Homo sapiens: one gene and its partner. The protein of the gene in region 1 interacts with the protein of each later gene in a pairwise test. Each region holds a gene or a part of one and is shown on either strand. Other genes may lie near its edges.

What was found. Proteins that work in one complex are often made in the same cells at the same time.
Region 2: the proteins of POU2AF1 (region 1) and NAB1 interact in a two-hybrid assay, tested with the Homo sapiens proteins (one large-scale study listed by BioGRID and IntAct).

Annotation. Positions count from the first base shown.
Region 1 is NC_000011.10:111,369,276-111,372,775, forward strand, and holds part of POU2AF1 (POU domain class 2-associating factor 1), read right to left. Parts: intron 1-3,500. UniProt on the Homo sapiens protein: Transcriptional coactivator that specifically associates with either POU2F1/OCT1 or POU2F2/OCT2. It boosts the POU2F1/OCT1 mediated promoter activity and to a lesser extent, that of POU2F2/OCT2. It recognizes the POU domains of POU2F1/OCT1 and POU2F2/OCT2.
Region 2 is NC_000002.12:190,655,583-190,659,082, reverse strand, and holds part of NAB1 (NGFI-A-binding protein 1), read right to left. Parts: exon of another isoform or gene 3,107-3,500; 5' UTR 2,930-3,106; intron 1-2,929. UniProt on the Homo sapiens protein: Acts as a transcriptional repressor for zinc finger transcription factors EGR1 and EGR2.

The DNA of each region.
Region 1 (3,500 bases):
GTCACCAGAGGATTAGGTTTGCAGCAGATGTGAGTTTTTAAAGTATGACTTCAGAAATGAAAAACCTTGGATATTTTTGAATGGCAGCGATTAGGTTGCAGACAGAGTATGATGGCATTCCCTTGTCCTGACCTCAGATGCAGCCCCTTAAGGAACCTATATGTATCTCCTAAAGGCCAGGGACACAGCCATGGCTGAGGCTATGTTGTAGATACTCCCTCAAGGGGGCTAGAAACCTAGGAGCACATATCGCATATGGAATAGAAATGTGGCAATGGGCAAGGGAGGGCTCTTCAGTGCCCATAGATGGGAGTTTTATCACCTTGTAGAGCAAAGCAGATTCCTGGATTACATATTTGGCATTGCCTCAAATTTGCTGAGAGTGGGGCATCAGGAAAGAGAAAGGGCCTAAACAGAGCTCCAGACCTACCGTCCCAGACCAGAAGGTGAATGAGGAGAGTCCACCTACCCCAGTGGCCACCCCAATTCTATAGCAAGGCAGTACCATAGTGAGGGATGGAGCAGAGGAAAGGGCTGTCTCTTTCCTTATTAGATCAAGGCTTGAATCTAGAATTGCCCATCTGAGCTAGGATGGGAATAACCTGTGGTTAGGCAGCTGGAGGAGGCAGATGGATATCCGATTTTTTGTTCCTTGATTCAAGCAATATCTAATTTTGGCTTTTCAAGACTAAAGAGCTTTATTGAAAAAACTTAACTTTTCCTGAGACCATCATGTAAGGACCACTTTCTTGGAGAATGGACTCTTCAGATCCCAGCATTAGTTTTGTATTTGGGGTCAGACCCAACTGCCCAAGTTCCAAGGCTCATGGTGGCCTGGGGTGTAGCCTTCGCAAGTGAGAGTAGCCCTAACAATGGATTCATGAGAAACATCACAGCTGGTCAAGAGGAGCTTTCTGGATAATGTTCAGCTTTGCTAACCAATGGCCCTCATGATGCAAGGGATTCCTTTATGAAAGACATTGGAGAAGGGGAGTGGTTGTTAGTATCAAGCCTGAGAAAGAAGTCACTTGGTCAGTTTTTTAGGAATTTACCTCCTCTTTATTCACAAGAGACCCACAAAGACCGAACACATAGTCTTCACAGCTTCAGAGCTTGATGAAGACCAATGCAATATGTTTCACAGCCACTCACTGCCACTCTCTGTGACCAGCTAGCAGGGATCTTGCTAAAAAGAGGGGTAGATTGGCCAGGTCAGGGGGATCCAGCTGTGACCTGAAGAACCCTGGAATATAGTTATGGTGCCTGCAGGTGCCAACAGAGTGAGAATGGCAGGGAAATGTGGGGGAACATGAGCAATCAGAGCTCCAGATAGCCCCCCAAAACCGCACGATTTTTATTCTTATACTGAAGTTCTACAGTAGATTTGGTTTGAATAAGGGAGTTTGTAGCAAAAATGTTATAGACATCAGCCTAAAATCCTTGGATTTTCTTCCCAGTGCTAATATTTTATGTCCTAAGATGCATCTGCACACCCCAGGATCTAAGCAAGAAGTCTGATTACCATCTATTCTTCAGGATCCAAACCCAATGCTATATGTTCCATGACACCTTCCCTGATTCCATCATCCCCACCTTCTGCTGAAGATAATTTATTTCATTGGTTGGTTTCTCTAGCTGGAAATAATTCCATTATTGGATGGATGCTTAGAGGGATGCATACCTGCATGGGATGATGAATAGATGGTTGATTTTCCTTCTATACCTTTCCTTCCTGAATTGGTGTACCTTTCATCCAACATTAAGACTTGCTTCTATTGTCAACTCTCTTGCCTCTCTTCTTTTCTTTCCTTTCTGTCACCTCAGCGTTTCCTAGTCCTGGAAAGTTTTAACAATGTCCTGTATGCTTGCTGTCTTCCAATGAAATGTATGGCTCTTTCTAGTGCATTAAAAAGTAATTCAGTTTAAGACTGGTCAAATCCTTTTTTGTCCCAGCACCTGGTCTGAGAATGATTCTGGTTTATAATCTTTTGGTGACCAGCTCTTCCCAGAAAGTGGTACTAATGAAACTGTTACTAAGAAAAGGAGGCCACACATTGTTGTTTCAGTTTTCGGTATCTATTTCTTGCATATTTCAAGTGTCATTCTGCTCACAACTAGATTACAAACACTCAGTCCAATCTTGTGAATTAAAAAAACAAACACGAGTTTGCCAGTCAGTACAAGTCTTGCCGCCACCCTACCTTACAAGGTCGGTAGGAAAATTGTGACGCGAGTTCCAAGTTTGATCACAGAATGGTCAGATTAATCATCAGAAGTAACCATGATCACTAACCCACCACAAGTTACAAGACTGGAGATGTGTGCCCTGCCATTTCACAAGAAATTCAGAACTCAGAGGACATACAAATTGTAATCTAAAATTAGCCGGCATAACCTTTGTCTTCAGAGGTAGATTGTGACAGAATGGGAAAATAATAATAGCAACTAATATTTATTGAGTGTTTACTTAATGCCAAGCACAGCAGAAAACCCCTACCACAATCCCATAAGGTAAGAGTCACACCTCTGGTGCATGCCTATAAAGAAATGGTGGCAGAAGGAGGAAAAAGGACTTACCAGTGTCACACAACCAGTAAGGCATAAACCTAGGACTCAAACTCAGATCTGCCTGCCCCAGAAGCTAAGCTTTAACTACTAAAGGCAAAGAAAGAACAGAAGTGTCACTCTCTAACTCAAAGTTAAACCCTACTCTCTACATCTTACTCTCCACACCCCACCTAAACACACACAAATACACACACACACACACACACACACACACACACACACACACAGAGAGAGAGAGAGAGAGAGATGAAGGAGCAGCCTGACTTTTCCAAAGTCTAGAAAGTTCAGAATCAAGGAAGTGCCACGGAGGCAGAAGCCTTGGCTCCCAGCAAAGGCTGCCTGCTACATCGGGCTCTCTACTAAAACTGCCCAGAAAAGAGTAGGGCTGGGTTATTTGGGGGCAAACTCTAGATCCTTCTCTGAGCCTTTTATTATAGCTAAAATATCTTCAAACTGTCCCGCAGAAGAGGCCCAGCAGCAAGCAGAGACCTTGTTTTCTTCAACAGGTAAGCTGAAGTAAATGTTAAACAAAATGGGTTCTCATGGTATGAACTACCATCTGCAGGGCTTTTTTTTGCCATTGGTCCCTTATCTGACATGGAAGGCCTGTGCTTTTACCAAGAATACTTCCTAAGCAATGTGAGAGAGACAGGCACTGTGGCAGGGAGACAGGACAGCTTAGCAGGCCAACACTTGAGGTCTGTTCACATGAATTTTGCTTTGTAGGAGAGTTACTAACTTAATCTTCATGATTCAGTTTCCTCATCTATAAAATGAACCTTACAACAGAATCTGCTTCATGGAGTTTTTATGAGGATTAAATGAGATAATGCACTCAAAGCATAGTGAAGACTGGCAGTTGTTACACTCAACATCCACCTTCCCTTCCTTTCTAACAGCCCCTGCATTATGGAGGGTGGCAATGTGCCCAG
Region 2 (3,500 bases), on another chromosome or scaffold:
AGGTTTTAAGAACAAAAACGAGAAGCATCTGCATCGTGACTGCCTGTGAAGGCAGCATTCTCTCTACATACTTTATCTCATTCTGAACTCCTAAAAACCTTATAGGTCAGTAACTAAACTGACGTACTTTCCCAAAAGAGAATAAATGGTAAGCAGGAATCTGGAGGTTCAAACCAAGGATCAAACCAAAGGTTCCATGTCCCGTATTTTTGGCTATATACTTTGCTACTGCCAAGGTTTGGACGCAGGTGGAGTGAAAGATAGTCAAATTTAGCAGGAGGTAAGAAGCAGAGTATGCTAACCATTTGCTGAATACTTACTTTGTGCCAGGCAATACAATAAACACTTTACATTACGTATGTCTAATTCTCACAATGGCCCTGTGACACAGGTACAGTTATTCCCATTTTATAGAGAAAAAATGAGCAAGATGAGTCTGGCAGGCAGAGGAAGATAGATTTCAGTATGAATTGGAGGTGAGAAATAGAAGGTGTTAATTTAGGAATCAAGAAAGAAGAGGTAGAGAAAAGTCAAACAAGTAACTGACAAGACTTGGTGATCACTTAGATCTAAGTGAGGAAGGAAGTTACTCTTTATTGACATTTATTGATGAAGAAAACAGTTACCATTTATTGACACTCTGTGGTTTAAGGGAAGAGTTACAGGTGACTACGAGATTACATCTGAGAGTTCAGAATTCTAACAGGCACTGGAGACACAGAAAAATGAGGATGATGGGATTCCCTTTCAAACACATGGCACTCGCACATGGCACAGGGTAGAAGGCTTATGTAGAATGGCCCTGCATGCAAAATAATAGACTAGAATCTAACTACGTATCAGGGAGAGGGCTGTAGGATAAAATAAGGAGGGTGGGTGATCACTCCAAAGCAGCAGCAGAAAGCCTAAGACAGAGCCAAGGAAGAAACATACTTTTTGAGCCCAAGCAAGACAAAGAAGTCTGTTTTTAAAGAGACAGAACAAGACTCAGCAAAGTACTTCTTGACCTCTTAGCAGCCTTTAAAAGTTGTTCACAGTTGCCTGGAGACCTCCCACATACAAAGAGGAGTTGGCCAAGTACTTCCATTTAAGAGAAACAAATAAACTTGTTGTAATCAAATGCACCCTTAGGATTAAAAGTACCCTGTAGCCCTCTATGGAGAAAATAACAGAAGGCTAAAAGAATATGTGCATCAGAGAAAAATGGAAGACCCACTCTCAACTCTGACAGTATGCAGCAATAGTTAACTGGGACGTCCCTGAAAGCCAAGAAGTCACTGAACTTGGGACTTTTGTTTTATGCCACCAATCAGAATGCTACACAAAATTCTAGTCTCAGTCACTCCAAGCCAGGAGAATGGGTGTCCCTACCACTCTAAGCACTGACTACCGGAAGTCCCATCTCCTGGAACCTCTGTGTCATCCACATCTGTTTTGACTTCCGCAAATTTTATGTCTCTTTCTTTGCAAGGGCTAGTATGGGCATAACCAGGTTACCTGATGACTTCCCAAAAGACAACAAAGGCTGAATTAGGGCCCAGTAGCTTCTACTAAAACCCAGGAAATCACCTGGGGTGCTTTTGAAAAATACAGTTTCCCAGGTGCCTGAGATGCATCTCAGGAGACTTCCATGATTAGGCAAATATGACACACTGCACAAGATTCCTACTTAATAAATCCTCCGGGCACCACAAACTCCTACAGGTACTGTGATGACCCAGGTAATTCTTTAGGTCAACCTTCACATTCATGCCACCTCAGTCCTCTGGATAAAAACGTTCTTGCATCTTCTAAATCACCTAAAGGAGGCTCTGCCTGTCCTCCCACTCCAGGGAGAATCTATCATCCACCTGGGCACTAACTCACAAAAACAGAGCTCTCAGGAGTTACAGACCCAAGTTTAGAGCTATATTAAACTACACTATACCAAATAGAAGGGCTGCTATAAAGTGTTGGAGGTGGAAGAAAGGACATTTACTTTCCTATCATACACCTCGTGCAATTCCTCCATAGGCTTTCAACGCAATACAGAAAAAAAAAGTACATGTGTAATGTGTATATACATACACATGATCAAAATAGACTGTGGAAGACACAGAAGCTCCAAGACATGGGGCTTCTCAGTAGTACACACACTATCTTTTTTTAATAAGAGGACTGTAACTTTGCAAGGTTTACAGGGTGATCAATTAACTCAGCATATGTGCTCCTCACATTATGGAATAGAGCAGAGATTACATGAGGAAATCTGGAAAAATACTTTTAAATCTTTTTATGAGCAATAAGAAAAAATATATGTTAGACAAATACAAAAGAGAAACTTAAGAACTAAAAGACTCAAGCTTATATTTTATTCTTCTGAGATAAGGCAATGATTTTAGAAAATAATTTTCAAGTTTTATCCTTTCTCATCTTTACCCACTTAAAAAAAAAATGAAACCCCCTAGTTCTTAAGAGAAAGCCCTCTGCATGGGTAAGAAAGTAGTTATGAATATAATATCTCCATAAAGACTGATAGGACCAAGTCTACATTTGCAAAGCCAAGATAACAGATGCAACATAACTAAGTAACCAATTCGGTCCCTGGAGGCTTTCTAGAGGCCCACACTTACTACTGGAAAAGGAGTTCTCCTCCTAAGCTTTTGCTTTAAGAGAATGTTTCAGTTTCCTTCCAAAGCCGGCTGTGATAATTTAAACACCCACCCCTTCATACATGAACTTGATGTGATTTGAAAGAAAACTTTTACAAGATTTTCTGTTTTCATAAAATCTATAACCATTAATGATTCAACATGAAGGTCAAATAAGTCAAAAGAAAGCTTCTACCTGCCTCTCTCCAATCTGAAGTAAATATAAAATGGGTCCTTAACACGTTATATACAGGTAGCTTAGAGTATTGTAAATCCACTCAGCTGAAAACTACTGTTACCTGGGCTTTTCAAGATATCCTGGAACGACCACTCGGAGTCTGACTTTTCAATGAATTCCACAGTTAAGAGAAACCAGTTAACTGCATTCAAAAGCTAACTCGGAGGCCTTGCTGCCAATGTACAGCAACTTCCACTTCCACTTCCATCAGCTTAAATGTTCCTCCCCCTGCTCAGTCCTATAAAAAGAATCCCAATGATGTTAGGGGAAGAGGAATTAAACAATGCATTAATTTAAGACCATTTGTTGTTGTTATTCACTGATCTTTTAAACGGTAATCATTTGTTCCAAAACTTTTTTTAAAATTCACTTTGGCTCCTTACAGGGTAGCATCAGTCACCTGCCAGATTCCAACTGTGCTAAGTGAAGCAGGGAGCTAGTCTGGCCCACAAAACTACCGGTCAACTCCTGTTTCGCTATGGAAAACAAAATTTCCCTGACAGTCTCCAAGCTGGGATGTGAGGATTTTTTGATAGGACAGAGGGCTTTAATTGTCACTAGAGAAAAGAAGAACCATTCCTTCAAACCTGACTCAGGCCAGCTTGTTTTCTGGGCTCACCATTCTATCAAAA